Linked DNA regions of Homo sapiens. The protein of the gene in region 7 interacts with the protein of the main gene of each other region in a biochemical or structural test. Each region holds a gene or a part of one and is shown on either strand. Other genes may lie near its edges. The genes, in order: SLC15A2, KCNJ1, CCDC134, ARHGEF7, PLCB1, CACNA1A and DLG4.

The links.
Region 1: the proteins of DLG4 (region 7) and SLC15A2 interact in a test that uses a peptide from one of them, tested with the Homo sapiens proteins (one large-scale study listed by IntAct).
Region 2: the proteins of DLG4 (region 7) and KCNJ1 interact in a test that uses a peptide from one of them, tested with the Homo sapiens proteins (one large-scale study listed by IntAct).
Region 3: the proteins of DLG4 (region 7) and CCDC134 interact in a test that uses a peptide from one of them, tested with the Homo sapiens proteins (one large-scale study listed by IntAct).
Region 4: the proteins of DLG4 (region 7) and ARHGEF7 interact in a test that uses a peptide from one of them, tested with the Homo sapiens proteins (one large-scale study listed by IntAct).
Region 5: the proteins of DLG4 (region 7) and PLCB1 interact in a test that uses a peptide from one of them, tested with the Homo sapiens proteins (one large-scale study listed by IntAct).
Region 6: the proteins of DLG4 (region 7) and CACNA1A interact in a test that uses a peptide from one of them, tested with the Homo sapiens proteins (one large-scale study listed by IntAct).

The regions. Positions count from the first base shown.
Region 1 is NC_000003.12:121,900,717-121,905,000, forward strand, and holds part of SLC15A2 (solute carrier family 15 member 2), read left to right. Parts: intron 1-4,284. UniProt on the Homo sapiens protein: Proton-coupled amino-acid transporter that transports oligopeptides of 2 to 4 amino acids with a preference for dipeptides. Transports neutral and anionic dipeptides with a proton to peptide stoichiometry of 2:1 or 3:1.
Region 2 is NC_000011.10:128,837,092-128,840,764, forward strand, and holds the end of KCNJ1 (ATP-sensitive inward rectifier potassium channel 1), read right to left. Parts: intron 3,174-3,673; coding exon of another isoform or gene 3,153-3,173; coding exon 2,034-3,152; 3' UTR 929-2,033; downstream 1-928. UniProt on the Homo sapiens protein: Inward rectifier potassium channels are characterized by a greater tendency to allow potassium to flow into the cell rather than out of it.
Region 3 is NC_000022.11:41,803,228-41,807,511, reverse strand, and holds part of CCDC134 (coiled-coil domain-containing protein 134 isoform 1 precursor), read right to left. Parts: intron 1-4,284. UniProt on the Homo sapiens protein: Molecular adapter required to prevent protein hyperglycosylation of HSP90B1: during translation, associates with nascent HSP90B1 and the STT3A catalytic component of the OST-A complex and tethers them to a specialized translocon that forms a microenvironment for HSP90B1 folding.
Region 4 is NC_000013.11:111,271,762-111,276,045, reverse strand, and holds part of ARHGEF7 (rho guanine nucleotide exchange factor 7), read right to left. Parts: intron 2,233-4,284; coding exon 2,094-2,232; intron 1,316-2,093; coding exon 1,256-1,315; intron 515-1,255; coding exon 368-514; intron 1-367. UniProt on the Homo sapiens protein: Acts as a RAC1 guanine nucleotide exchange factor (GEF) and can induce membrane ruffling. Functions in cell migration, attachment and cell spreading. Promotes targeting of RAC1 to focal adhesions. May function as a positive regulator of apoptosis.
Region 5 is NC_000020.11:8,733,166-8,737,449, reverse strand, and holds part of PLCB1 (1-phosphatidylinositol 4,5-bisphosphate phosphodiesterase beta-1), read right to left. Parts: intron 4,213-4,284; coding exon 4,058-4,212; intron 423-4,057; coding exon 258-422; intron 1-257.
Region 6 is NC_000019.10:13,495,956-13,500,239, forward strand, and holds part of CACNA1A (voltage-dependent P/Q-type calcium channel subunit alpha-1A), read right to left. Parts: intron 1-4,284.
Region 7 is NC_000017.11:7,193,628-7,197,911, reverse strand, and holds part of DLG4 (disks large homolog 4), read left to right. Parts: intron 1-859; coding exon 860-1,155; intron 1,156-1,336; coding exon 1,337-1,439; intron 1,440-1,577; coding exon 1,578-1,692; intron 1,693-3,416; coding exon 3,417-3,593; intron 3,594-3,911; coding exon 3,912-3,948; intron 3,949-4,040; coding exon 4,041-4,068; intron 4,069-4,197; coding exon 4,198-4,245; intron 4,246-4,284. UniProt on the Homo sapiens protein: Postsynaptic scaffolding protein that plays a critical role in synaptogenesis and synaptic plasticity by providing a platform for the postsynaptic clustering of crucial synaptic proteins.

The DNA.
Region 1 (4,284 bases), on a different chromosome or scaffold from region 7:
CAAACCCCGTAAGGCTCACTCAAATACCACCTATGCTATGGAGTATTCTCTGCCCCCTCACCTTTTACTATAGCTGGAAGTAATATAGTGTTTTCTGAGTTCTTTGTTTTCTCACCCTTATATGACATTTACTAAACTCTATCTTATTATAGTTATTTAATTATTTATATATGAATCTGATATCTTCTTTCAAACACTTAGAGGACAAAGTCATTTATATATATTTTTCCCCACCCACCCCAGTCATTTATATATTATATGAATGTATATAATATGTATAATATATAAGTATATATATAATATACATATTTTTTGTCGTTGAGGCAAAGTCTCGCTCTGTCACCCAGGCTGGAGTGCAGTGATGCAATCTCGGCTCACTGCAACCTCTGCCTCCCAGGTCCAAGCGATTCTCCTGCCTCAGCCTCCTGAGTATCTGGGATTATATGCATGTACCACCATGCCCGGCTAATTTTTGTATTTTTAGTAGAGATGAGATTTCACCATGTTGGCCAGGCTGGTCTCGAACTCGACCTCAAGTGGTCCACCCACCTCTGTCTCCCAAACTGCTGGGATTACAAGTGTGAGCCACTGTGCCCGGCTGTGATTTATATTTTTATCCAAGAGCACGTAGAATAGTGCCTAGCAGATAGGCCCACAGTAAATCTTCGAATTCATAAATTTATTCACCCTCAGACCCTCAAATGTAGCCACATGACTGCAGATAGATGTAGACAGGCATGAAGGTTACTTTTATTTTATTGTGGGTATTTTGGTTGCTTTTTAAATAAGAAAACTTGGGGGTGATTTGTATCTCTTTCACAAAGGGAGTAGTTTGAGAAAATGTGGGTAACTTGTTCTCCTGTAGTCATGTTTGTGTGTGTGTGCGTGTGCATGTGTGTGTAACATATACAAACAGATGATAACAGCAACAAAAGGGAATAAGTATTTAAAACTACCCTTCCTTAAGTTGGAAAATCAGAAAAAAGACAAGACTCTTCCTTTACTGTCTTTTCTAATTTGAACCTGTAGCCTATTTTCTTCATTTGCTAGAGGAAAATGGATAGATTTTTGTTTCAAACCGTTAAGTTCTTCCCCACCTCTCATATGTTTCTCTGCCTGAGTATGTGTTTGTGTGTGTGTGTGTGTGTGTGGTGTGTTTACTTTTATTCACGTGTTACTTTGAGGGTGAAAAGCCTTCTCTAACATTAGAAAGATTGTTCAAACCCTGAAGGGGCAATTTCCTGAAGTTAGTAAACAACTTCTATTAAAAATCTTTCCTCTGTTTGCTATCCCAGAATAATAGATATGTTAAGAGGAAATGGGCATCCAGAGTCCCTGACTCTTGTTTAAGGAACTCCCTATGCCAGGAAAGAAGTGAGGCTTCCTTCAGAGCTACATACAGGAAAGACTAATCAATAGGTACGCAGTGGGAAAACAAAAATTATTAAACATGCATATTGGTTTCTCAAGGATGCTATTTGTAGTGTCAAGTTGGTTTTAAGAAAGGAAAACATTTTTAGTCATAGTTCCTAGATTTTATATCCTATTACCCAGGCTCATCAGTTTTGATTTTTGACCTGGGCAATCACTTAGAACCACTCTCTTAAACGTGTTTATTATTTTTTTATTTTAATTTAATTTTAATTTTTATTTTTTATTATACTTTAAGTTCTAGGGTACACGTGCACAACGTGCAGGTTTGTTACATAGGTATACATGTGCCATGTTGGTTTGTTGCACCCATGAACTCGCCATTTACATTAGGTATTTCTCCTAATGCTATCCCTCCACCAGCCCTCCACCCCATGACAGGCCCCCATGTGTGACGTTCCCCGCCTGGTGTCCAAGTGTTCTCATTGTTCAATTCCCACCTATGAGTGAGAACATGTGGTGTTTGGTTTTCTGTCCTTGTGATAGTTTCCTCAGAATGATGGTTTCCAGCTTCATCCATGTCCCTGCAAAGGACATGAACTCATCCTTTTTTATGGTTGCATAGTATTCCATGGTGTATATGTGCCACATTTTCTTAATCCAGTCTATCATTGATGGACATTTGGCTTGGTTGCAAGTTTTTGCTATTGTGAATAGTGCTGCAGTAAACATATGTATGCATGTGTCTTTATAGTAGCATGATTTATAATCCTTTGGGTATATACCCAGTAATGGGATGGCTGGGTCAAATGGCATTTCTAGTTCTAGATCCCTGTCTTCCACAATGGTTGAAATGGTTGAACAAGTTTACAGTCCCACCAACCAGTGTAAAAGTGTTCCTATTTCTCCACATCCTCTCCAGCATCTGCTGTCTCCTGCCTTTTTAATGATTGCCATTCTAACTGGTGTGAGATGGTATCTCATTGTGGTTTTGATTTGCATTTCTTTGATGGCCAGTGATGATGAGCATTTTTTCATGTGTCTGTTGGCTGCATAAATGTCTTCTTTTGAAAAGTGTCTGTTCATATCCTTTGCCCACTTTTTGATGGTGTTGTTTTTTTCTTGTAAATTTGTTTAAGTTCTTTGTAGATTCTAGATATTAGCCCTTTGTCAGATGGGTAGATTGCAAAAATTTTCTCCCACTCTGTAGGTTGCCTGTTCACTCTGATGGTAGTTGCTTTTGCTGTGCAGAAGCTCTTTAATTTAATTAGATCCCATTTGTCAATTTTGGCTTTGGTTGCCATTGCTTTTGGTGTTTTAGACATGAAGTCCTTGCCCATGCCTATGTCCTGAATGGTAATGTCTAGGTTTTCTTCTAGGGTTTTTATGGTTTTAGGTCTAACATGTAAGTCTTTAATCCATCTTGAATTAATTTTTGTATAAGGTGTAAGGAAGGGATCCAGTTTCAGCTTTCTACATATGGCTAGCCAGTTTTCCTAGCACCATTTATTAAATAGGGAATCCTTTCCCCATTGCTTGTTTTTGTCAGGTTTGTCAAAGATCAGATGGTTGTAGATGTGTGGTGTTATTTCTGAGGCCTCTGTTCTGTTCCATTGGTCTATATATGTGTTTTGGTACCAGTACCATGCTGTTTTGGTTACTGTCGCCTTGTAGTATAGTTTGAAGTCAGGTAGCCTGATGCCTCCAGCTTTGTTCTTTTGGCTTAGGATTGTCTTGGCAATGTGGGCTATTTTTGCGTCCATATGAACTTTAAAGTAGTTTTTTGCAATTCTCTGAAGAAAGTCATTGGTAGCTTGATGGGGATAGCATTGAATCTATAAATTACCTTGGGCAGTATGGCCATTTTCACGATATTGACTCTTCCTATCCATGAGCATGGAATGTTCTTCCATTTGTTTGTATCCTCTTTTATTTCATTGAGCAATGGTTTGTAGTTCTCCTTGAAGAGGTCCTTCACATCCCTTGTAAGTTGGATTCCTAGGTATTTTTTTCTCTTTGTAGCAATTGTGGATGGAAGTTCACTCATGATTTGGCTCTCTGTTTGTCTGTTATTGGTGTATAAGAATGCTTGTGATTTTTGTACATTGATTTTGTATCCTGAGACTTTGCTGAAGTTGCTTATCAGCTTAAGGAGATTTTGGGCTGAGACAGTGGGGTTTTCTAGATATACAATCATGTCATCTGCAAACAGGGACATTTTGACTTCCTCTTTTCCTAATTGAATACCCTTTATTTCCTTCTCCTGCCTAATTGCCCTGGCCAGAACTTCCAACACTATGTTGAATAGAAGTGGTGAGAGAGGGCATCCCTGTCTTGTACCAGTTTTCAAAGGGAATGCTTCCAGTTCTTGCCCATTCAGTATGATATTGGCTGTGGGTTTGTCATAGATAGCTCTTATTATTTTGAGATACGTTCCATCAATACCTAGTTTATTGAGAGTTTTTAGCATGAAGGGCTGTTGATTTTTGTCGAAGGCCTTTTCTGCATCTATTGAGATAATCATGTGGTTTTTGTTGTTGATTGTGTTTATATGCCGGATTACGTTTATTGATTGGCATATGTTGAACCAGCCTTGCATCCCAGGGATGAAGCCGACTTGATCATGGTGGATAACCTTTCTGATGTGCTGCTGGATTCGGTTTGCCAGTATTTTATTGAGGATTTTCACATTGGTGTTCACCAGGGATACTGGTCTAAAATTCTCTTTCTTTGTTGTCTCTGCCAGGCTTTCATATCAGGATGATGCTGGCCTCATCAAATGAGTTAGGCAGGATTCTCTCTTTTTCTATTGATTGGAATAGTTTCAGAAGGAATGATACCAGCCCCTCTTTCTACCTCTGGTAGAATTCAGCTGTGAATCCGTCTGGTCCTGGCCTTTTTTTGGTTGGTAGG
Region 2 (3,673 bases), on a different chromosome or scaffold from region 7:
GCGCTTTGGGGTTCCAGCCACTCCTTAGACCTATCAAAAGTTACCTGTTCCAGGCCTCTTTTCCTAGGGGCTTAATTGGATGTACCTGTGTTAATGGTTGCTAGAGGGTCAATGGGAATTTCCATTAAAAAAGAGACTCCAGGTGCAGAGTGTCTTGATCCTAGCAAAGGGATATTTAGAAGCAGATGGGCCTCCACCAAATAACCCAGAAGTAAATACCAATCAGAAAGATGTATGTTGTTCACCTCCCTAAACAATCAAAGGGAATGGATTGCTTATGACCATCTCACTTCCAGCCATCTACATGCATGCTGCCAGCCAGCAGGAGAATACACCAGGAAGAGTGCATGCTGATGGGAACAAGTGTCAACACAGTTTCCCTCCAGTTTATGAAGGGGCTACATCATGACAGTGGGCCAGCAGAGAATTCCAGCTCCCTCAAGCTTGTGATACCTGATTTCTTTTTCCTGTCAGCACATTAAATTGTGGTGCCAAAGCACTCACAGGTACAGAGTGAGAGTTCCACATGGGCCAGCTATGGCCACTGTTATGGCCACTGACAAGGTGTGCAACCCTAAAACCATCAGACTTCCCACTGTTCTTAGTCAGAAGGACCAGAGTGGTGCATGGATCTGTACAAATACAGCCCAGGCATGGAAAAACATAAGCCATCCCTCCCAACAACTGTGGGCAGCTGCCGTTTTATGTGCCAAGACTCACACTGGAGAGGCGTGATGGAGCTGTACCGGAAGGGGTGTGTCTGTGGCCAGGGTCATTTCCTCCTGAGGACTCCAGACAACAAATGTGTCCTATCTGCTTCCTCTCCACTCCTCCCGCCCCTTCCAGGAGAGGGTCCTCTCTGCAAGAGGATTTTCACCTGGAACCTGACTCAGTTAATGCATAGTAATAATAATAATCAAAGTGCATGCACAGTTTCAGAAATTTACTATATTAATCAACACACTGAAAACATTTTGATTCCTAAGCAGCTTTGAGTACCAGTTTTTTTCCAGGACACATTCGGAATGATGCAGGTGGGGATCTGAAGAAGACTTTCACAGTAAAACTTTCCCCTCAAGGTCGAGCCTTCCATAAGCTGGTCCCTTTTAGGAAGATGGGCTGTCAGGGAAAGAAAGACATAGTAACATTCTGACTGTGGGGCTCCATCCCATTCCTCTCTCTTTCCCACTTCTTCTTTAGAAATAGCATTCCAGTACAAACTCTAGGTGGAGGAACACATGAAACTGTTTCTTCTCAGGTGCATTAATGATACATTCCCTTCTCTACTGACTTTGCACCTTCCAACTCCTCATTGCTGTCTTCGAAGAGCAGGAAATGCTCTTTATAAACAGATTTATAGCCCTTTAAGCCATCCAATACAGATTGAAAGAAATATCATCACCACTTTTAACTAAAGCATTCTGTCTTGCAGGAAGGTATCATCAAGATTCTAGTGTGCAGATTTAGCCTCTGTCTAAACGTACCACATGAGAAGCTTAGAGCCTCAAATTGTTCTTTGTGTAAGCGTTTTCTTGTCATTGATTGGTTGGTTCATCTCCCCAAATTAGGAGACAATTTTTCCATGAGTAAAAGTCCACATTAAAAGTGGAGTCATTCTTATCAGTAGAATCAAAATGAGATTATTATTGTCCCCTGATCCTTTCTAAAGTTCATAACTTCTTTAAGGAAACTTTAAAAAATATTTTGTTTGGCCTGTTCATGAAACTTTTGATAATTTTATCTGCTCCAATCCACCTTATATGAGCTCAAATAATCATATTTAAGATTTCAAGAGAGCACCTATGTCTTCCATACACCAGTTTCATATAAATGCATTGCACGTTCTAATACAGTAGCCTTGTGGAGATGCATGTCTTGTGGGATCACAATTGCGGGGCTCAGGGGTCTTTGTGCTGGTAGACTTTGAAGGCTCTCATCCTACTTTCGTACCCCTAAATTGTTGACTGCTTCATAATGCTTCTAGGTACTAGGAGCTTTAGAGACTTTGCTTTACTCCCGTTGAAAAGCCACTGTTACATTTTGGTGTCATCTGTTTCATTGACTTCTGACAAGATGAAGTTGGGGTTGTCATAGCCTCTCTTCATCCTGGCTCTAACATCTTTCTCATTATAAAGGCACATGGCACAGTGAGGGGTCTCCACTTCCACTGTCTTGCTAAAGTTATGGAAATCCACTCGGTATTTCCCTTCCTTTGTCTTGGATACTATGGGAGCAAAACGGTAGCCCCAAAGCACCTCCTCTGGGACATAGGATGTCCGGACTTGGCAGGTAGCACTGGTGGACTCCACTGTGCCATCTAAAAACACCACTAATTCAAAGTCCTGCTGGAGAAGGGTCTCCGCTGCCATGTGGAAGAAAGGGCTGTTGTGATCAATGACATGGTAAATTGTCAATGGGGAGATGAAGAATAAATTTTCATTCCCAGCGTCAACTACAAAGTTGATATTGATCTGGTCCAAAATAATGGTCTCTCCTTCAGGAGTGACTGTGGTCTTCAGAAGCTTTCCATAAATGTGACTGCCAATAAGAAGGCTCTTCCTGAGATTAGCCACTCGGATTAGGAGGCAAAGCTTCCCTCCCCGTTTGCTGATCACTGCGTTCTTGCTGAACGTAATGGTCTTGGCACGTTTTTTGGGCCTGGAGATCTTGGCTAAGATGGCCCCACACATGAAAGAATTGATTATAACTCCAAGTATAGACTGAAAGATAAGCAGAAAAATGGCAGTGGCACACTGTTCTGTCACACACCTGAATCCATATCCAATGGTCACTTGAGTCTCCAGAGAAAACAGAAAAGCTGAGGTCAAGCCATTAATATTCTCCACACAGGGAGTGTGATTGGCAGAAGGATGGAATTCCGGGAGGTCTTTGTGAATGTACGCTACTGCATACCACAGGAGACCAAAGAAAAACCAACTCCCCAAGAAGGCTGTGATGAAAATGGTCATTTTGTATCTCCACTTGAGGTCAAGTACCGTTGTCCAGATGTCCACAAAGAATATAAACCTTGACTGTGCCTCCACATTGCCAAATTCTATGTTGCACCTTCCATCTTTGGAGACTAGCCTTGCTCTTTGCCGAGAATGCCCAAAAAAGCGAGTGACGACCCATTTCCGAAGATGTTTGAACATACTTTCTGTCAACACCCTGATCTGAAAACACATCAAAGAAAAACAAAAAAGGATTATGTTTATAGCAATAGTGAACTAGGTGACCCACATGAAAGACCTAACTACGAAAAGATCATTCAAAATTATCTGGGTTACTAATCATTTGGCAAGCTGACAAGTTTATTCTGGATACCACAATGCTATTTCTGATAGAAACTTTCCACTGGAAGACCATGTTACTCAAACATAAAGAGGCAAAATAATTACAGAGAGCTAGAAATGAAGACAAACTAAGTGATTATATATTCAAGTGTTTCCTGACCTCAATTAGTCTCACACAACCTTAAATATGTTTGTAATAACCAATTATGACCTGTATTTTTATTTATTGAATATTACTTAAATCACCTTCTCATAAGTTTAGCCTTATGTTAAGCAATAATTTCTGAGAAATCACAAACTTGAAGCATTATGTATGTTTTTGAGATATAGAAAAATGAATAACTGACCAATAAAACACTCATCAATATACTACCTAAATC
Region 3 (4,284 bases), on a different chromosome or scaffold from region 7:
TGGCTCATTGCAGCCTCCACTTCCCAGGCTCAAGCCATCCTCCCACCTCAGCCTCCTGAATAGCTGGCACTACAGGTGCATGCCGCCATGCACGGCTATTTTTTGTATTTTTCTTAGACGTGGGTTTTGCTACATTGCCCAGGCTAGTCTTGAACTCCTGGGCTCAAGTGATCCACCCATCTTGGCCTCCCAAAGTACTGGGATACAGGTGTGAGTCACTGCACCCGGCTACTATAGCTTTTTTCTCTGGTTCTAACTCTGCTGTTACGGCCTGACACTCAAATATTCTGTCTTGAGGGCCTAGAAAAACAATGTTTTCCTCTAGTATAACTTGATTCTGTACTTCGGGCTTTTCTTGATGTGTCTGAATTGTTCCATTTAACCAGGAAATTTCTCATGCTTTTAACTAAGAGCCAGGTATTCCCCAGTTGAAGGCACTAGTTTTTGTTTTGTTTTGTTTTTTTGAGACGGAGTCTTGCTCTGTTGCCCAGTCTGGAGAGCAATGGCACGATCTCGGCTCACTGCAACCTCCGCTTCCTGGGTTCAAGCGATTCTCCCTGCCTCAGCCTCCCGAGTAGCTGGGATTACAGTTGCCTGCCACCACACACAGCTAATTTTTGTATTTTTAGTAGCAACGGGGTTTTGCCATGTTGGCCAGGCTGGTCTTGAACTACTGACCTTAGGTGATCCACCGCCTCAGCCTCCCAAAGTGCTGGGATTACAGTCGTGAGCCACCGTGCCTGGCTGGTACTAGTTTTCTTGTTTACATTCCACTATAATATGATGGAAACTCATAACCTTGGACACACTCTGCCTGTGTCTGATGAAATTCACAACTTTTTCATAAAACCTGAGCTATGAAAGGGTTAAGATTTTTTTGTTTTTACACCCTGGTAACCTTCTGTATTGCTTGCGACACATAAATAACAAATTGACAAATTTCCTTGTCCACTGCTGATTATAATGAACTTCCATTAGATTTTTAACCATGGGGACAGGCATGGTGGCTCATGCCTGTAATCCCAGCACTTTGGGAGGCCGAGGTGGGCGGATCACAAGGTCAGGAGATCAAGACCATCCTGGCTAACACAGTGAAACCCCGTCTCTACTAAAAATACAAAAAAAATTAGCCGGGCGTGGAGGCATGTGCCTGTAATCTCAGCTACTTGGGAGGCTGAGGCAGGAGAATCGCTTGTACCCAGGAGGCAGAGGTTGCAGTGAGCCGAGATCGCACCACTGCACTCCAGCCTGGGCAACAGAGCGAGACTGCGAATCAAAAAAAAAAAAAAAAAAAAAATTAGTCGCCTAAAAAAAAAAGATTTTCAACCATGGTTGTTCCAAGTCTTTGTCATCTGTGGTTCTGATTCTTCTCTAAGAGCATTTGCAATCAGATTCATAAGAAGACTCTAACAAGTAATCTTAAATACAAGTTTCTAAAAACTTAAAAACTTTAAGATCTATGGACTAAATAAAGAATTTTCAGAACTCTAATGAAGAAACTGATGAATTCCTGAAATCTCTAATCAAAATCAAACAGAACTCAATTAAAAACTGATGAAGATAATTTTCTTTTCTTTTCTGTATTTATTTATTTATTTTTGAGACAGGGTCTCACTCTGTCATCCAGGCTCACTGCAGCCTCAACCTCTTGGGCTTAAACAAGCCTCCTACCTCAACATCCTGTGTAGCTGAGACTACCAGCACATGTCACCATGCCCAGCTATTATAATTTTTAAAATCTTTTTGTAGAGGTAGGATCTTGCTATATTGCCTAGGCTGGTCTCAAACTCCTGAGCTCAAGCAATCCTCCTGCCTTGGCCTCCCAAAGTGCTGAGATTACAGGCATGAGCCACCCTGCCAGAGTAATGTGTTTATGACATATATTTGGAATATTATTGGTTCTTTACTTGTTTTGTTTTCTAAATTTAAGGAAACTTTTTCTCTTAAGCTATCTATAGTTTACAGCAATTCCATAAGAAATACTTTTGTAAAGAGAGGTGGAAACATTTACTTTTTCTCCCTATTTAACCCATCTAAAATTTGAAAACTATTCAAGAAAAGTATTCTTTTTTTTATTTTATTTTTTATTTTTTAGACAGGGTCTCCCTCTGGAGTACAGTGGTATAATCATGGCTCACTGTAGCCTTGACCTCCCAGGCTCAATCAATTCTCCTTCCTCAGTCTCCCAAGGGCCTGGGAGTACAGGCATGCACCACCACACCCAGCTAATTTTTGTATTTTTTAGTAGAGATGGGGTTTGGGCATGTTTCCCAGGTTGATCTTGAACTCCTGGGTTCAAGTGATCAGGCTGCCATGGCCTCCCACAGTGAAAGGATTACAGGCGTGAGCCACCATGCTGGTCTATTCATGAGTATTCTTACGGCAATGTGGTTATTTGCAAAAGTCCAGTAAGACTTTGCTCTCTCTCTTTTTTTTTTATTTTGAGACAGAGTCTCACTCTGTTGCTCAGGCTGGAGTGCAGTGGCACGATCTCAGATCTTGCAACCTCCACCTCCCAGGTTCAAGTGATTCTTGCGCCTCAGCCTCCCCAGTAACTGGGATCACAGGCGAGCACTACCATGTCTGACTAATTTTTGTATTTTTAGTAGAGACAGCGTTTCACCATGTTGGCCAGGCTGGTCTCGAACTCCTGGCCTTAAGCGATCTGCCCACTTTGGGCTCCCAATGTACTGAGATTACAGGCGTGAGCCACTGTGCCCAGCCTGTTCTCTCTTATAACAGAATACAACAAATATTGCTTATATTACCAGGGCTTTAACTAGAATATCATACTTGAGAATGTACATAGAAAGCCTGCCTTCAAAGATTCCCAGCCTTACAGTGAATGAGTAAAATCTGTCACTTCCTGGCAGGCCCAGGAACCTTAAGACTGTTAAGTAAAATCTAAAGTCTGCCTTGGTTTTGCTTCCTAGCCTTAAATGGTTTTTAAATCTGTTATTCCTATGTGATCACTGTAAAGAGAAAATTTTGTTTCTAAAAAAAGCTATAGTACATCTGTTATTAGACTGCAGCCCTGTGCATTGTTTTTGAGTTCTCATTATCTACTTGTATACTGGACTAGCTCCTGAATTCTAGATTCCTCCAATCTAACTTTCTTTCATGAAATTATTAAAAATTGGCACTGCTCTGTTCCTGAAGCCCTGTAAGTTGAAACTAGATGAACTTTAAGGTACAAGCCTTGTGCCTAATGTATGGGTCACACAGGAAGTTCACCAAACATCCCAATGCCATAACCAGAGACATTCAAACTGCAAACCAGGATAAGAAGTTGATGGTTTCATACTGTAGATAGCTTTTCCGAAGACACTGGAACAAGATTCCATATCATTTTGAGACTCTTACTCGTTTCTTTTTTTTTGAGTAGGAGTCTGGCTCTGTCGTCCAGGCTGGAGTGCAGTGGTGCAATCTCGGCTCAATGAAAGCTCCACCTTCCAGGTTCACGCCATTTTCCTGCCTCAGCCTCCCGAGTAACTAGGACTACAGGTGCCCGCCACCACGCCCGGGTAATTTTTTTTGTATTTTTTGTAGAGACGGGGTTTCACCATGTTAGCCAGGATGGTCTCCATCTCCTGCCCTCGTGATCCGCCCGTCTCAGCCTCCCAAAGTGCTGGGATTACAGGCGTGAGCCACCACGGTGGGCCTCTCAGAACTATTATGCAAACTGAGATTATCACATTGCTATTACTTCCTATTTTCCTATTTATTTATTTTACATTATTTTTGGAGACAGAGTCTCACTCTGTAGCCCGAGCTGGAGTGCAGTGGCACCATCTTGGCTCACTGTAACCTCTGCCTCCCGGGTTCAAGTGATTCTCCTGCCTCAGCCTCCCGAGTAGCTGGGATTACAGGTGTGCATCACCATGCCTGGCTAATTTTTGTATTTTTTGTAGAGACGAGGTTTCATGATCTTGGCCAGGCTGGTCTCGAACTCCTGGGTTCAAGCAATCTGGCCATCTTGGCCTCCCAAAGTGCCAGGATTACAGGGGTGAGCTATCGTGCCCAGCCCTATTTTCTTTTTAAACTTTATACCTATTACTTTTTAAATTTTTGTTGAAGTATCACTCCTGACAGAATAATGCTGGCCCAGAAGTTTGCAATGACAGCAAATGCCTATGGAACAGCCAAAATTGAACTTAACAATGAACTCCAGGTAGACATACCTTGAGAGCCACTCCTTCCAAACCTCCCTTGCTGCTCAAATGTGGCTAAAAGGTATTTGGGGTTTTTTGAGGCAGGGTCTCGCTCTGTCACCCACGCTGGAGT
Region 4 (4,284 bases), on a different chromosome or scaffold from region 7:
CAGGTCCCTGTGAGAGTGAGCCTTGGTACAAAGTTGCTGGCCAGATAAGCGCATACAGCTCCATGCGGATGTGTGCACAGGACTCCTGCAAGTCTTTCTGCACACTATCTATCCTTCAGTTCACGTGGGCTTCGGGCCACACTGACTTCAGCTGGATCAAACTGATCAACAAGTCCACACTCAGCTCTAAGCCTCTCTAACATGCCATAAGCCTCTCTCCTGTGTCAAGAATAAAAAGTAGCTCACAAATTATAAGATAGAGCTTCTATTAGACATTTTTCATCGCTTGAGATGCCTTTAAAATCTTCTGCTATGAGCTCCTAAGAGTGGGACAGAAACCCTGGTGCGTGCATGTGGGCAGCAGTACCTCACTTCCGGCACACTGAATCAGGACCTGGGACATGTAAGTGACGTTGCCCAGAGTTTTAATGTCATCGCCCTCCCAGTTCCGGATGGCTTCCGTCAGGATCTGCAGCTCAAGCTCTTTCCTCTTCCGGACTTCTTGACATTGGGCCTGACAGACACAGAACAACACTGTTAACAGACATAAACTTTCAGAATGTTAAGTTCCGGCCACATTGCTTTGTATCATCCTTAAGACAATTATTGCTTTATATCTTACTTCTTCAGACAGATAATTTATTGAGCGATTTGCTTAATTATAGGGAATTGAAAGTATTTGCTTAGAAGTATGAAACCAAGTTAAGAGAAGCAACACACACAACTGCTCTGGAATACTAAGTATTATTTTAGAAAGATAGAGCACATTTTGCCACTTGTACAAAAAAGAAATGTGGACAGGACAAGAACTGTATTTTCATTCTGGTTTTGTTCGTGTTTGCCAATATGGAAGACTGAAAAGAAGAAACAGAAAGTATAACTTGTGCTATAAAATAAGGCCATATATTTCCAAAACGCAGTTGGTAAGACAACACAACAGCAGAGAAAATGGAACCACCATTGTTCTGTTTTGCAATAAATCATTAAAGACAACATGAATGAAGGGTAAAAAAATGTTTTAAACAATTTTAAAGTAGATCTAACATCAATTACACAGTGACTTTAAAAAATTTAAATAATTATTCTATCATAGTCCACTAAAAGGAGTTTACCAGCCACAGAATGCCGACTCTGTTTTTCTTTCATGTCAGCACAAGTCATTTTTTAATCATTTGACTTTTTCAGTTGATAATTCTTTTACATTCATTTGTCACAATAATGTCTGGGGGGGAAAACAATATGCTTAATCACTTACTGAAAGGTTTTTGAAGGCAGCCATGGATTTTTGAATATCTTGTCTATCTGTATGATAATCCTTTGAGTAAAAGAAACATACAATTAGCTTTCATAAGGAAAAGCTTTTCTTAAAAAGGTACTTTCTACAGACCAGCTTGAAACTTTTCTAACACTTTTCAACCCTTAACATTCCCTTTTTCCCTCAGCATTAAAGTGTCAGTCTTTCAGCAAATCACGAAGCCATTAGACTTTGGGGAAATATAAGTTGGAAGAGAACAGTCACAAGCAGCAGGGGTGGGGAAGCCAACACTTGCTTCATCAATAAAGTCTTATTGGAACACTGCCACGGCTCACATACAGTATCTAAAATGGCAGAGCTGTGTAGCCGTGAAGAAGACCCTACAGTCTGCCCCCTTATAGAAAAGGTTTGCCAACTCAAGCCAAGAGAGTAACTTCAACCCAAATTTCTGCTAGGCTGCAACCTGTTATTCAAAATTAAAAGAGCACAATCATTCATCAAATGATTAGTACAGTATTACCCTATAACCTATGCACACATTGTTTGTAGCTGGATGATCCAGGTAAGACATCTCAACACTATCTGAAAATCAGTTCTCATGTTTCAGCTTTTGGAAACTTTTCAATCAGCAGCAGTGGGTAAAAGAGAGATAAGGGGTAAATGTTTTCTAATAGAGCTGGAATAAGGAGAAAAACATAATATTTAACAAAACTCTTTGTAAACTCTGTTGGTTCTGGCTTCTAAAATAAATCATGAATAATACTTTCTTTCACAGTAAGTCTGACCATGCCACTAACCCTTGGTAAGGACTCCAAGTAAGAGAATGAAAGCGCAGTACCTCCATGTGTCTCTCGAGCTCTTTGAGCAGCGTAGGGTATTTATCCAGGCGCATGAAGGGTTTGCTCAGGCCCGTGGTCAGCACGAGAATCCCAGGGCTGCTGGCACCTTTGGTCTCCATGAACTCCCCCAACTCCTCACTGGGCAGCAAGTGGCAAGAGAGACACTCGTGGTTAGCAATGAGAGACAATGGTGGCTCTCTCATCTCCATGAGCAACAGCCAGAATTTATGAAACATAAGTGTTGCTTTTAACATCTGGAAGGCTCCAGCTTTTATCCCAAATCTGCGCTGCTTATCTGGAAATGCCAAAGGGGACTCCCATCCCTAAGGGGTCCCGTTCCTGCTCTCATATGAGCAACAATAACTATACACAGCACAGGACATGTGGGTCTCCATGAGATCCTACTGATGGCGAGGTCCTCCAGCACATCAGTGCCATGCAGACATATCCAATGGAAACATGCACACTCAGAGCCAGAATGGATTCCAATAATCTCAGAGTCTCAAGGTGGTAGAACAAGGACCGAGCTGCTCCGGTAAAGAGCTAGAGCACACTGATGGTAGTCATCCCCAGATGCGAGTTCGTCCAGCGAGCAGGCCCCACCTATGTGCTGCCAGCACTCAGCCTGGGAGTAGGCAATGGCTCTTGGGGTGAGGAGCACGAGAAGCAGCAAGAGAAGAGAGCAAACGCTGATTTAGGCTTCAGAACTTCAAAAGCTTTAAGTTTAATCCTCACAATACGTGAGGAAGAAAGGGGTCCCTGTGTGCAGACAGCGAATGTTGATTTACGCTTTAGAACTTCAAAAGCATTGTTACATTCAATCCTCACAACACGTAAGGAAGGAAGGTGTCCCTGTGTATGGACATAGAAACAGTGCATATCCCAAAATTAAAGAGTCAGAAACAAGTTTTAGAACTTTCTGTATTCCTCTTCAACCATCCCCTTCACAGTGCCTCGCCTATCTTTCCCTACAGTGGGTCCTCATGTGTGTCATCTTTGTCCTCAGAGTTCCCATGGCTGTGGCAGAGGACACGGGCAGGCTTCTGTGGGGGGTCCAGCTCTTCACCCACACGTTTGTTAAGGCTGACAGTCACCTGACCGCAACACCCCTTCACTGGCGATCTCTGAGGTCTCTGTCAGGCCCTGGGTCTGCTGTCCCTCAAATTGCATGTGCCATCAGTCCACACATCTGACAGTGTACAGCCCACAGAAAGGAGGGGAGGCAGCACCAGCGCTGGCAGCCGATGCCAGGTCCAGACCAGGATGACTTCTCAGTCACCACATCCCATCCAGGAGACCCAGGTGACCCCCGCCCCATCACCACGCCCCATCCTAGAAGATAGGGGTCTCTAGTCAGCAGAGCTTGGTTCAAATGATACCCATGGCACAAATCCTAGGAACAAATTTTCCTAGTCTAGAGGTTTTCCCTTAAAAGGAAAAGATACTTTTATATCCTCATTATGTAAACGATGTCCTAAAATAAACATGAAAATCCTAACAGCAAAACTGAGAAACAAGCCAATTTCCGGTTCTGGTCTCACAGGAGCCTCCCACCGCACCACCCCAGCCAAGCTGGCTACTGCCAGAGGTCTCGGGGACACCAGAACCATCAAGGGCTCCCGGGGAAAAGACAGACAGTGTTTTGGCTAACCCAGAGGAAACTGAGTCCACAAATAGTGAACATTAACAGTTTCAGAGAGTTCAACCTAAACACAGCTTCCCATAAGGAGGACTGAGAGCCAGGGTGGTGCCAGCCCTTCCCGCTTCTCACCCTCCTTATTCCATGTGGATCCCCTGCCAGGGCAGCCAGGGAGAATGTCCTCCAATGAAACCGATTCAAACACCATGCTGAAAACCAAACAGTCATTAGGAAACCAGCCTTCCACTTCCTAAGCACGTAAGACCTTCTGAGAAGGCCACTTACATCTCAACGCTTTCTACAAAACCAGGGTGGTCTCATTAACCAAGGCCAGGGTGCAGTCCTATGCTGTGTAAAAACAGTAACGATGTGGGTGCGGCACCTCTGTCTGCCCTTGCCAACAAGAAATACTTCCAATAAACACATACATATACACACTTAACAGATATTATCAATACTAAAGCAAATTATAAAAAAGGGTAATGTTGCATATATCCACTTGTAAAAAAATTAAGACAAGAAACATTTTATCAACTCCATATATAAGGCTT
Region 5 (4,284 bases), on a different chromosome or scaffold from region 7:
AGTTAAATGTATATGTTTTTATGGCCGTCCATTTGAGGCATACTAGAATGAATTGATTTACAATACAATTCTGAAAATCCAAACCAGTGATTAACAGAATTCTTGAAGGGTTTTCAGAATGGCTTTCAAAAGGTAATTGCTTTATAAGTGTGTAAATTTTCAAATTAAATAACAAATAATTCACCATTTCATTATTTTCTCAGTGTAAAACACCTGAAAAATGCAGTTATAACTCATATCAAGAACATGTGACCAACCTTTTTGAACACAATAGGTTCTTCTTCCCAGACAGGATTCACAGCATTTCCTTGGGATGTTTTGGTCTTAAATGCCTTCCTCCTTGTATCCACAGGCAAACCAAACATATCTACTTCCACGTAAGTCCCAACTTTCTTATCAGAAAGAAACTGACCTGAAATAATCTAGAAAATCAATAAATCAATCAATCCATAAGGAATTTTGATATGCAAATAACAAAGACATAAGAGAATACTTTAAAGAGCCACAAATGCTCTTCAGCAAATGTTGAATTATAAGCAAAATGGAATAGAAGCAAGAGTAGAAATATGATTTCCCTTTCACTTAATGGGTTATGATATGGTTTGGTTCTATGTCCTCACCCAAATCTCATGTTGAATTGTAATCCTCACATATTTGGGGAGGGTGATTGGATTATGGGAGTGGTTTCTCTCATGCTGTTCTCATGATAGTGAGTTCTCACAAGATCTGATGGTTTAATAAGTGTGTGGCAGTTCCCCCCTCACTCTCTCTCTTCTCCCTTCATGTGAGGTGTGCTTTGCTTCCCCTTCACTTTCCACCATAATTGTAAGTTTCATGAGGCCTCCTCAGCCATGCAGAACTGTGAGTCAATTAAACCTCTTTTCTTTATAAATTGCTCAGTTTCAGGTAGTTCTTTATAGCAGTGTGAAAATGGACAAACACAGGTTGGTAGAAGGATATTGAAAATGGTGAGGTTAGAAGTAGTCAATTAATAAGACACAGTATTGTAGGAGGAATAAATGAACAAGTATTCACTTTAAACCATCAAGATAAGTTTATCATTACCCCTAATCTCACAAGGTGTCACCATCTTTGTCTAGCTACAGAACTAATGGATATTATAGACTTAAAAGAGATTTTTAATATTACGTATTTATAAATGTCTTCCATGTCTGCCTCTGTTTCTATGCAAATTTTCAAAATCTGAACTATCCACCAGCTGTCATAAAGGTTAGCGGAGGCAAACAAGATGTGCTTCTGCTGTATACCAGGAAGGGGAAAGCAGGAAGCAAGTGCTGACAGAGCAAACCTGGTGAATCTGGGTTATGTGGTTACAAGAAAATTGCCTGCTGGTCAAGAACTTTCTGAGCTCCAGATTGTGAAAAGGGGACAGCATTATGGCTGGGCTCACAATCTGAGCTCAAGATTGTGAAAGGGGACAGAATTATGGCTGGGCCAGAAATCAGACAAAATGGTGGCATGAGAATAGCTATCAAAGGCTGAGTAAAGTCAAAGTCAGCTATATGCTGATGTTGTCAGAAATTCTGAGTAATTCAGAGAGAAAGTCATCAGGAAGGCTCTCTGAATTTGCCCTGGGACAACTCATTTCCCCTGTATGTTCTATTTGGCTTGAGTGCATGGGACCTGCTAGCAACAATCTCTTTGTTTAACTTGAGGTTCTATGTGAGAACTATGTCTATGAAATAAGCAAGCATTTCAAAACATGTTTGAAACTTCTAAGTTATGCAAGTCCTACTTGGAATTCAGATGCACAGAAGATGTTGTATGTTTAAGATGTTTGACCAAAGCAGAGTCCTAAACTAAATTCATGACACCAAAACCACAATGCTCTCGTCAGTAACATAGGACGGTAGAACATCATGTGAGCTCACAAGTCCATTCTGGCATTATAAAATCTATGCCAGAAGATGAAAACAAAGGCATAATTGGAAAGTTATGATCTGTATCTTGGCTCTAGCTATAATGTCAAAGGTAGGACTCTACTGCAGTGAGAACTGTCCATTCAGGGGAGACTGACAGCTCTGGAGCAGCGTCTCCATTCTGGACAGGAGCAGCAGGTTACACTTGTCTGGGGATCAACTATTTCCCCTTCACAACTCAATGTACTTTCCTGCCTCTGTGTCATTGTTTTATAATTGCTTACTGTCACAGTAGGATTTTCAAGACAAAAAAAGAAATAAGCAAACAAATACATTCAAAACAAGACGAATCTGCAAGCAAAGCAAAAATATTATTAATTCAACCGAACTATAACAACAATTGACAAGGATTCTAAAAGTAGCATTCTATCAGTACATGGAGCTTATGAGTTTATCTTTATCACACCTGACAGGAATTAAACAGCCTTTTCTGAAAATACTTTCCTAAAATAAACTCTAATTCTGCCAACTTGAACTCTTTATACATGTGGCTTGAAGTAATTTCAAAAGATATAATTATGAGACACTTCACTGAAATTTTATTCTTTAAACCCTTGATATAAAGTGACGAAAGTTTTAAGGTAAAAATGTGCTCAACTGCTTAGGGTAGAAAGAAATTAGTGAAGCTGTTATAGAAAGCTTTTTACATAGTTTTTCAAATGCCTTTGTTTAAGGTTAATCAAAAAATTACATTTATGTCCAGTAAAAAAATTTCTTAGTTCTATAGTTATTCAGTTAAACAGAAAACAGACAATATTTTTGAAAAGCTTTAACGATGAAGAATCCATGTAAAATGTATTCTAAAAAATTGATTTTCCTTTCATAGTATTAAAAATATTTTCTGGTAGCTAAAAAATTATATCTGATATAAAATCAATTTCAAAGACTAAAAAAATTTAGAATTGTTTAGGGTCAGATATACATATGTATGTGTATATATCTATGATTTTTATATATTTATGACATACATGTATATATACATATATATTTAATAAAGCAACTCTTTTATTTAATGATCATTAATATGTGTTTTAAAATCTCTGAATACTCTGGAAGATTTTCAAAAACCATTTAAAGTAATTTGAAAGCTTTTGTTTAACATTTGATAATTTATTGAGGGAATGTTCTGTCTCTAATTTTCTAAGAACCAAACGGGGAAAAAAAGACCGGAAAATCTCTCCAATATGGGCCACTAATTATCATGTAAATTTCATAGTAGGTTAGTTACACCAAAAAAGAGGTTTGCTTATGATGAGTCTCTCCAACTCATTTTATTGATTTAGAGTCAGATTTTTATCATTAAGAATAAAGTTCAGTCGCTTTATCTTATTCATGTGGCCTATGAAAACTTTTTTTTTTTTTTTTTTTTTTTTTGAGACAGAGTCTCGCTCTCTCGCTCTGTCGCCCAGGCTGGAGTGCAGTGGCGCGATCTGGGCTCTCTGCAAGCTCCACCTCCCAGGTTCACGCCATTCTCCTGTCTCAGCCTCTTGAGTAGCTGGCACTACAGGCGCCCGCCACCACGCCCGGCTAATTGTTTTTTTTTGTATTTTTTAGTAGAGACGGGGTTTCACCGTGTTAGCCAGGATGGTCTCGATCTCCTGACCTCGTGATCCACCTGCCTCGGCCTCCCAAAGTGCTGGGATTACAGGCGTGAGTCACTGCGCCCGACCCTACCAAAACTTTTATTATTATTATTATTATTATTATTATTATTATTATTATTATACTTTAAGTTTTAGGGTACATGCGCACAATGTGCAGGTTAGTTACATATGTATACATGTGCCATGCTGGTGTGCTGCACCCATTAACTCGTCATTTAGCATTAGGTGTATCTCCTAATGCTATCCCTCCCCGCTCCCCCCACCCCACAACAGTCCCCAGAGTGTGATGTTCCCCTTCCCGTGTGCATTCATAGATGGGAATTGAACAATGAGAACACACGGACCCCTTACGAAAACTTTTAATGTGTATTTGATCTTTAGAGAAAAAAAATGTAGGAAGAAAGTAGAATCTTTCCTAGTTACTAAATTTTTAATGACTAAGCCACTTCTTTATGCAATGTAGATAAATTCAACACTATTGTTAGGAACAATTTTGTGATGGGGTATACCTACCTTAACAGACAAAGTGTTTGCCACTATCCCATCTACGATGCCTTCAGTAAATGGATCAAAATGCTTGTCAGGCCTCCTCATGAACTCTGGCTTCAATCTGTAGCCACTCTTCCCGTTGTATTCATACATCCCCATATTTATTTGCATAGCCAGGTCTGAGTATCAAAAACACAAGCCTTATTGTGAGTTTATCTATACTTGGGGTAAGAAAGTAAGATTGTAAAGTA
Region 6 (4,284 bases), on a different chromosome or scaffold from region 7:
TCCACCCACCTACCCTCCAATCACCCATCCTTCCTTCCTTCCTTCATCCCATCCATCCATCCATCCACTCATCCATGCATCTGTTCAACCATCCATCCATCCATCCATCCATCCATCCATCCATCCATCCATCCACCCAGACATCCAACACTAACTGCAGAGGATGCCTCCATCCCCTCTAAACCACAAACATCCAGCTATGATCCATAACTTAAAAGACTGCGTTGTGATCAGAAACAGGCCACAAGTCAAAAATTTGCATTCTGACAACTCTTTCAAAGACAACTCAAGTCTCTAAACATTTCTGACCATTCCAATTTGTGTAAGACCCAAACACTCCATGTCCTTGTAAGGCCCTCAGAGAAGCTAACCTATATTTGGTGCTCTGAAGTATTTGATGTCTTCAAAGACGGTGCCCTTAGGGAGAAGGTAAGACTAGAGACAGTATAGTTAGAGGAAGGGGAAGCTGTGGGGAGATTGGAGAGTCTGGCAATGGGGCATAACAAATGAGAGAAAAAGATTAGAAACATGGAAGAAGGATTGCTGAGACGTGGGGAAAATCCTACTTGGGCCTAGGAATCATGGAATTCTAGTATGGACAATCAATGAGACCTTGTGATTGTGTTCTCCTTGGCTTATATATTGGAGCAACAGTGATTCAGCTGATCATTCAGAAGAATGGGTTAACAACACAGACGCCAAAAATAACAGAGATCAAGGGAGTTGAGAGACTTGGCAAGAAAGAGCAGAATATTAACACTTATGCAGCACCTACTGTGTGCCACACACTATTCTCAGCAGTGGATCAGAGAAGCCCAAATATGGCCACCCACATAAGTCCATCCATCTATCCACTCTTCCATGTATAAACACATATAGTGCTTCCTAAGTGTCAGGCACCACTCTAAACATCAGATGTATTAACTCATTTAATCCTCCCAGATAGGAGCTATTAGGATCCCCATGGAGCTATTAGAATCACCACTGGGACAGACTGGGAAACTGAAGCACAGAACACTTAAGTGACTTGCCCAAGATCACGCAGCCAGTGACTAGTAGAGCTGGGATTTGAACCCCAGCCACCTAGCTCCAGAATCCATGCTCTCAACTCAACCATGCTGCTTCTCTACAACCATATCAATTGCCAGTGTCTAAACCACAGGTTCTGACTCTCAGAATACAAGCAGGACCAAGAGCTAACCGGTTGACCCAGCCTCTTAGAGAAAATGATGAGTAAGCTGTGAAATGTCTTAGCTCCTGCCATAAATGCTGATGAATCTCAGCTGATTCTAGGTGAAGCTAGATTTCCAAGTACACAGACTAAAATTAACACCTCGAATTCATTCATTCAAAATTATTGATTCCTTACAGCAGCATTGTTCATAACAGCAAACAAACAAACAATCCCCCACCCCAAACTAGAAACATCCCAAATGCCCATCGTCCTGCTTGAACCCGGGAGGCGGAGGTTGCAGTGAGCCGAGATCGCGCCATTGCACTCCAGCCTGGGCAACAAGAATGAAACTCCATCTCAAAAAAAAAAAAAAAAAAAAAAAAAAAAAAAAAATATATATATATATATATATATATATATATATATATATATATATATATATATATATATAAATTTATGTTGTTAAAGCTGGGTACGGTGGTGCATGCCTATAGTCCCAGCTTCTCGGGAGGCTAAGGCAGGAGGATCGCTTGAGCCTAGGAGGTCGAGGCTATAGTGAGCCATGATCATGCCACTGCACTCCAGCCTGGGTGACAGAGTGAGACTCTGACTCAAAATAAATAAAATAAAATTCATTGAGTTGGCTACTTCACAGGATGATTATATATGCCATGTGCTTTCTGGGTACAGTATCTTTTAACCTTCTTACAATTCCTCGGACATAGGACTACTGTCCCCGTTTTACAGAGGAGAAGACTGAGGCTCCACAACTGTGAGCTGGAGCTGAGATTTGCAGCCAGGGTGGACTGTTCCCAAGCTCTATATGTCTCCCCTCCATCCAATATCACCTTCCCTCCTCTTTTCCTCCTTACAGCCTCCACTGCTTGTGCTGTTAATCAAACAGACACATTCCTATGCAGACGCCACAACATGCCACGAACACATTTCACTGCAGTGATGGTCAGCATAGCCCTCCCACCCACACACACCATGCCCATCATTCTCAATAAAGAAGATAATAAAGATCATGGAGATAAAAGAACGTGACAGACTCTGGAAGATCAGAATCCATGTAACACCACTGCGGGCCAAGTTTTAAGTCTGCCCCAGAGTCTCATTGAAGACAAATCCATCCACTTTTACAAAAAGGTAACATCCAGACTTCGCCCTCCTGCAAATGCTGTTCGTATGAAAATACTTTAAAAATCAGTTTAAAATTACATATATTTTTTACACATAGGCCTAAAATGAGAACAGAACTTAACAGCATGAATATTATTTACTGGCAAGTGGGTGACTAAGTTGGGTTTCCCTCATGGCTTCAGAGAGGGGACTCTTGAATCCTGTTATTTGGGGGCTGGGGGTGGGAGGCTGCTAATTTCTAACTGCAGGTGCCGCCTGAGCAACAGGCACCTTTAAGGAAGACTCACGGCTGCTCCCAGTCTGAACGGCAGATAAAGCCGTGTCTGACCGAAGCGAGATGTCAAAACTTGATCCGGACTTAACTCAGGCATTTCCCTTCATAGCTGGAATCTCTCTTGTATTAGCTGCCTTAAAGACGGCTTCTAAAAGCTGCATTCATTCCAATAAAAAGTCTTGGCTTTTCAGAGGGAATAAGTAACTGACTCTCCCCCTTTCTTGGTCAACGGCACCATCTCTTGCACCATTCTTCTCTCTCAGGTGTTAAGAACTCACCATTAGGGTGACCAGCGTCCCAGTTTGCCCAGGACTGTGAGTTTCCAGAGATGCTAAACCCAGGATAGTCCCAGGCAACCCTGGCTGAAGGGTCACCCTACTCAGATAAGAACTGAGGCCCAGTGGTTTTTGAAACCTAAGTTGCTGTGCCCACTCATGGTTCCCTCGCCAGGAATGTTCCTTGTTTTTCCTATTTTTTTAGGGAGTGAGGAGAAAGAAGACCAAAGTTTGGAAGGGGAGGGGGGTACCTAAATTCTAAACCAAAAGTTGAGCAAAGTTTTTCTGTGGAGTTTGCAGTGGACACCTGGGGTGGCCATCCTGGGCTGCACTCTCGACCGGCCCCAAAGGAAGAGACAGGGAGTGCAAAAGGGGAAGAGGGAAGCTAATTATATACTTTAAAACTCCCTCACCTTGTCACCCACAGAGAGAGGGAGGGACCAAAGGAGGAAAGAGAATTAATTTTTACCTTAGACTCAAGGGAATAGAAAAATGGGTCAAGTGGCCACGAATTTTTTTTCCCCTGAAAGCTTCCAGAGAGAACGGAGAATGCAAAATGTCCAAAGGTGGCTTTAAAGAGCGCCACGATCAGGTTAATCAATCCACACTGACCAGTCGCAGGGGGTGGTGGGGGGGGGCACTTCGCTCCCATTCCCACCCAGAAAGCCTCTTTTCTGGCCGGTTTCCAAAAAAAGAACACTGGAACCTAAATGACTCCATAGTATTACGGCTCTGGCGTTTTGGGGTTTTTCTCTGTGCTGGAGACTGTGCTGGCCATTTTTCACGCACGACCCCATTTAATCTCCTGAGAGCCCTCCAAGGGAGATGCTACTAGAAGGAATATCCTCATCATGCATGTCAAGAAATAGGCTCTGGTGCCCAAGATAACATGGCTGGTGAATAATGTGAACCTGGGCCAGTCTGACCCAGAGTCCGGAGTGTTTTCCCTCTCCTCTCTGCCCTCTTTCAGAGCAGGCACCATCCCATCCGGCCCTTTTCTCAGGAGCTGAGCTGGCATTCTCGGAAATGCGTTACTGCACGGCTCTTAGGCTCTGATCATTTCTGGATGGAGTCCACCTTCCCGGCGGTGCTTTTTATTGCTGAGAAAGTGTATATGTGTGCTTGCTACTGGGGGGGAAACAGGGAGGGGGAAGCATAAGCCCTACGCACCCAACAGATGCCTCCCACTCCAAGTCCCTGAAGAAAGACTTCATTCTCAAGGGGCCGCTGCATCCAATCTACTCAAGCACTAACATTTCAGAAACTTTCATTGGTCTGATAATCTCATGGACAGTCTCTCAACCCCCTGCAACTAAAACCCATCAAAATCCTAAAACGTTGGCACAAGGGTAGATCAGATAGATGTTATACAATTTAGTTAATGGGTGAAGACAGGTACCTTTTCTCATTTGCTCAGC
Region 7 (4,284 bases):
TTGAACTTGAAACTGATCAAGCCTCCAGAATGAACTGCCAGTTTACAGGAGATACAGGGGCAGAGGCATAGGCTAAACAAACCACAGGAGGGTAAGCAGTAATTTCCCTGTTAGAATTTCCCTCATAGGCTGGTCAAGGTGGCTCATGCCTGTAATCCCAGCACTTTGGGAGGCATAAGCGGGTGGATCATTTGAGTTCAGAAGTTCCAGACCAGCCTGGACAACATGGTGAAACACTGTCTCTACTAAAAATACAAAAATTAGCTGGGCATGGTGGCGCGCGCCTGTAATCCCAGCTACTTGGGAGGCTGAGGCATGAGAATCACTTGAACCTGGGAGGCAGAGGCTGCAGTGAGCCAAGATCACGGCACTGCACTCCAGCCTGAGACTCCTTCTCAAAAAAACCCCAAAAAAACAAAAGAATTTCCCTCATAGAATGTGGGAAATTCTTTTAGACAAATGACCTAGTTTTTTCAACGAATGGATGGCAGAGAGGTGGGGGGAAAAAAGAGGGAGAAGAATTTTATGGATTAAGAGATTCGAGTGACACAGGAACCCAGAGAAAACCCCCAAAGCGTAATATTAATGCTCCCTTTGACTTCCCCATCCCTGGCATACTGAGGACATATAACGTTCAAATCCTTTATCCCCTAGGACAACCAGCCTCTGATGTCACCTATAAATTCCTGACCCCTGATGTCACTGTGATCTGATATCCCCTTACCACCCCACCCTGGCATCTCTGGCAGAATATCTTCCCTTCCACCTAACTTTGGCTCTTCTGGCACCCTGGGGAGAAGGTTGGGTGGCGGGTGCTGTTTCCCTCCAGGCACTTTCATCTCTGCCCTGTCTTCCTCAGCTTATTCCCAGCACCTGGACAATGAGATCAGTCACAGCAGCTACCTGGGCACCGACTACCCCACAGCCATGACCCCCACTTCCCCTCGGCGCTACTCTCCAGTGGCCAAGGACCTGCTCGGGGAGGAAGACATTCCCCGAGAACCGAGGCGAATTGTGATCCACCGGGGCTCCACGGGCCTGGGCTTCAACATCGTGGGTGGCGAGGACGGTGAAGGCATCTTCATCTCCTTTATCCTGGCCGGGGGCCCTGCAGACCTCAGTGGGGAGCTGCGGAAGGGGGACCAGATCCTGTCGGTGAGGGAAGGCCTGCCCCTACCTGCACCACCCCCTCCCCACAGGGCAGAGCGCAGAGCTCTTGGGGAGGGGCCTGGATGGGCTGCAGCCGAGTCCTCTTGCGGGACCACTCCCTGCTCCACCTGGACCCAGAAGTGCTGCCTCCTGTCTCTGGTGACACAGCCTGTCGTCCTCTCTCTAGGTCAACGGTGTGGACCTCCGAAATGCCAGCCATGAGCAGGCTGCCATTGCCCTGAAGAATGCGGGTCAGACGGTCACGATCATCGCTCAGTATAAACCAGAAGGTACCAGGCCGGAAGTTCCTTGTCTTGTGAGCTGAAATGGCCCTTAGAACTCTTCCTCAGCTGATGGCTTCAGTAGGGGAGGACAGGGGTGACAGTAGGATGGGGACAGAGCTCAGAAACCTCCCTGTCCTTCCTCAGAGTACAGCCGATTCGAGGCCAAGATCCACGACCTTCGGGAACAGCTCATGAACAGCAGCCTGGGCTCAGGGACTGCGTCCCTGCGGAGCAACCCCAAAAGGGGTTTCTACATCAGGTCAGAGGCTTCCCGGGCTGGACTCCTCAGCCCCTCTGCGTTCCTGGGCACTCTGTGCCTGGCCCGGGCCTCAGCCGCTCCTCTTCTCCACCCTGCCTGCTCTAGCTCCCCACCCCAGGCCTGAGGCGCAGCCAGGGTTCATGGGCTTGGCTGCACAGGTTAACATTTGAAATACTCCCTGTCGATGGGAAAATAGCCTCTGCCCCAAGTATCCCAATTGCCTTCTAGCCCCTGGTCATCCCAGCACTTCCCCGGGACTCCCAGGCCACCCCACAATTTGGCGTCTCGAAGGTTAATGCTTGGTGAAGCAGGGTCCTCTAGGGTATTTGGAGTGTTGCCCCAGCCTTCACGTCCCTGTGGGCAGTCCCGGAGACGTGGGCCGCAGCTCTGTGGTGCCTGCCCCCGTCTCTCCAGCGGCATTTTGCTCCCCTCTTAGGGCTCGTCTCCATTGACTCTTTTTGTGGCTTAGGTTTCTGCCAAAACACACCTCTCTCCCGCCCCCGGGGGTCACCCCTCCACTTCTGTCCCTGTCTGGCCCTGTGGCTTGCATGGCCTCGTCTGCCGCTGCGCTCTGCAGATGTCTCTCGGAGGTGCTGGCCCTGGCTGACCTATTTCCAGAGGTCAAGACCTGCACTTCTGGCCATTGGCTTTCTGGCCATCTCCACTGGGATGTCCCACAGGCGTCCCACACTCAACATGTCCCACGCTGAGCTCATCATCCTGCTGTGGGCCTGGGTTCCATCTTGCTGTGCCAGCAGTTTCCCTCTTGTTGGATGGCATCACCAGCCACCCAGACACTGGCTCCCACCTGAGCCCTTGCTCTGCCCTTCCTCCCTGCTCGGGTCCGGTTGGTCCCCAAGGTTGTTCTGACTCCCAGTGACCACAGAGGTTGTGTAGTGGCTCCCAGGCGGAATGTCATCTGGTTGTCACACTTCCAGGGGGCCCGGGGTCTCCTCCCTCCTCTCCAGGCCCATTGCTTTCTTCTGTGTCTTCATTACTTCCCTGGTTCTGACCCCAGGGGTTGTGACTTACTGATAGAAATTTGATACTGGTAAGGGTAACCATTATTTGGAAACACGGGACATTTTCTTTTTCTTATGAATTTGGGCAGATTCAGGGTTACCCCTGTGACTTTATGATGTGCGTGTGTACTGCACACTGCTTTCTGTTTTTCTTTTTCTTTTTCTTTTTTTTTTTTTTTGAGACGGTGTCTCGCTCCGTTGCCCAGGCTGGAGTGCAGTGGCGTGATCTCTGCTCACTGCAAGCTCCGCCTCCTGGGTTCATGCCATTTTCCTGCCTCAGCCTCCCGAGAAGCTGGGAATACAGGCACCCGCCACCGTGCCCGGCTAATATTTTGTATTTTTAGTAGAGACGGGGTTTCACCATGGTCTCAATCTCCTGACCTTGTGATCCGCCCGCCTTGGCCTCCCAAAGTCAGCTGGGATTCCAGGTGGGAGCCACCACGCCTGGCCCAAACTGCTTTCTTGAGAGGGTCAAGTTCAAGCCCTGCCTCTGGAAACTGTGCTCAGTGTGGACTGAGTGATGGCTAATAGTTGTTATGAGTTATAGTCAGCGTTTGGTCCCCACACAGTTTTGGGTTCCTCGGCATCCATAGCTCCCATGGGAGTGCCATCTGCAGACCTCTGGGCCGGGTCTTTGGGTGACTGGGGCATCCTTCCTGGAGTCCTCAGCTGGGCTCTGACCGATAGCCACTTGCCCTCCAGGGCCCTGTTTGATTACGACAAGACCAAGGACTGCGGCTTCCTGAGCCAGGCCCTGAGCTTCCGCTTTGGGGATGTGCTGCATGTCATCGATGCTAGTGATGAGGAGTGGTGGCAGGCACGGCGGGTCCACTCTGACAGTGAGACCGACGACATTGGGTTCATCCCCAGCAAACGGCGGTGAGGCTCCTGGGCTCTGTAGCCTTCCTGCCACAGGCACTGAAGTTCCCAAGGTCCCCCGGGGTGGGCAGCCAACAGGGGATGGGTTTGCCCTCTGAACTCCTAGGGGTTTGTCTGTTGGGCCCTCCTGGGGTCCGTGGCTCCCATGAGCCTTTGGGAAGGACAACTCCTTATTGAGGAGCACAGTGTCCAGGGCTGCAGGAGAAGGGGTGTCAGCTGGCCCAGAGTATGGAGAAGGGGTTGTCAGCTGGCTCAGAGCATGGGGGTGGCAGGGGGTAGGCATTCCCCTACCCGCGTATCCCTCCATGTATCCCACAGGGTTGAGCGACGAGAGTGGTCAAGGTTAAAGGCCAAGGTAGGTGGAGGAGGGTGTGAGCCTGGGTGGAAGTGTGAGGGCTCATGGAGCTGAGCTCATAACTAACCCCGTGGCCTGCTTTTTCTTCTTAGGACTGGGGCTCCAGCTCTGGATCGCAGGGTAGGTAGGGTTAGTTCGGGAAGATGTGGGTGAGAGGAGCACTGAGTTGCTTTTGATATCCTCAAGGGGGAGACAGGGCTCCAGGTCCCCTGTTTCAGAGCCCCTTGCAGATGCCCCACCTCCCACCAGGTCGAGAAGACTCGGTTCTGAGCTACGAGACAGTGACGCAGATGGAAGGTGAGCCCTGGCCCCTGCCTTGGCCCCAGCACTTGCTGC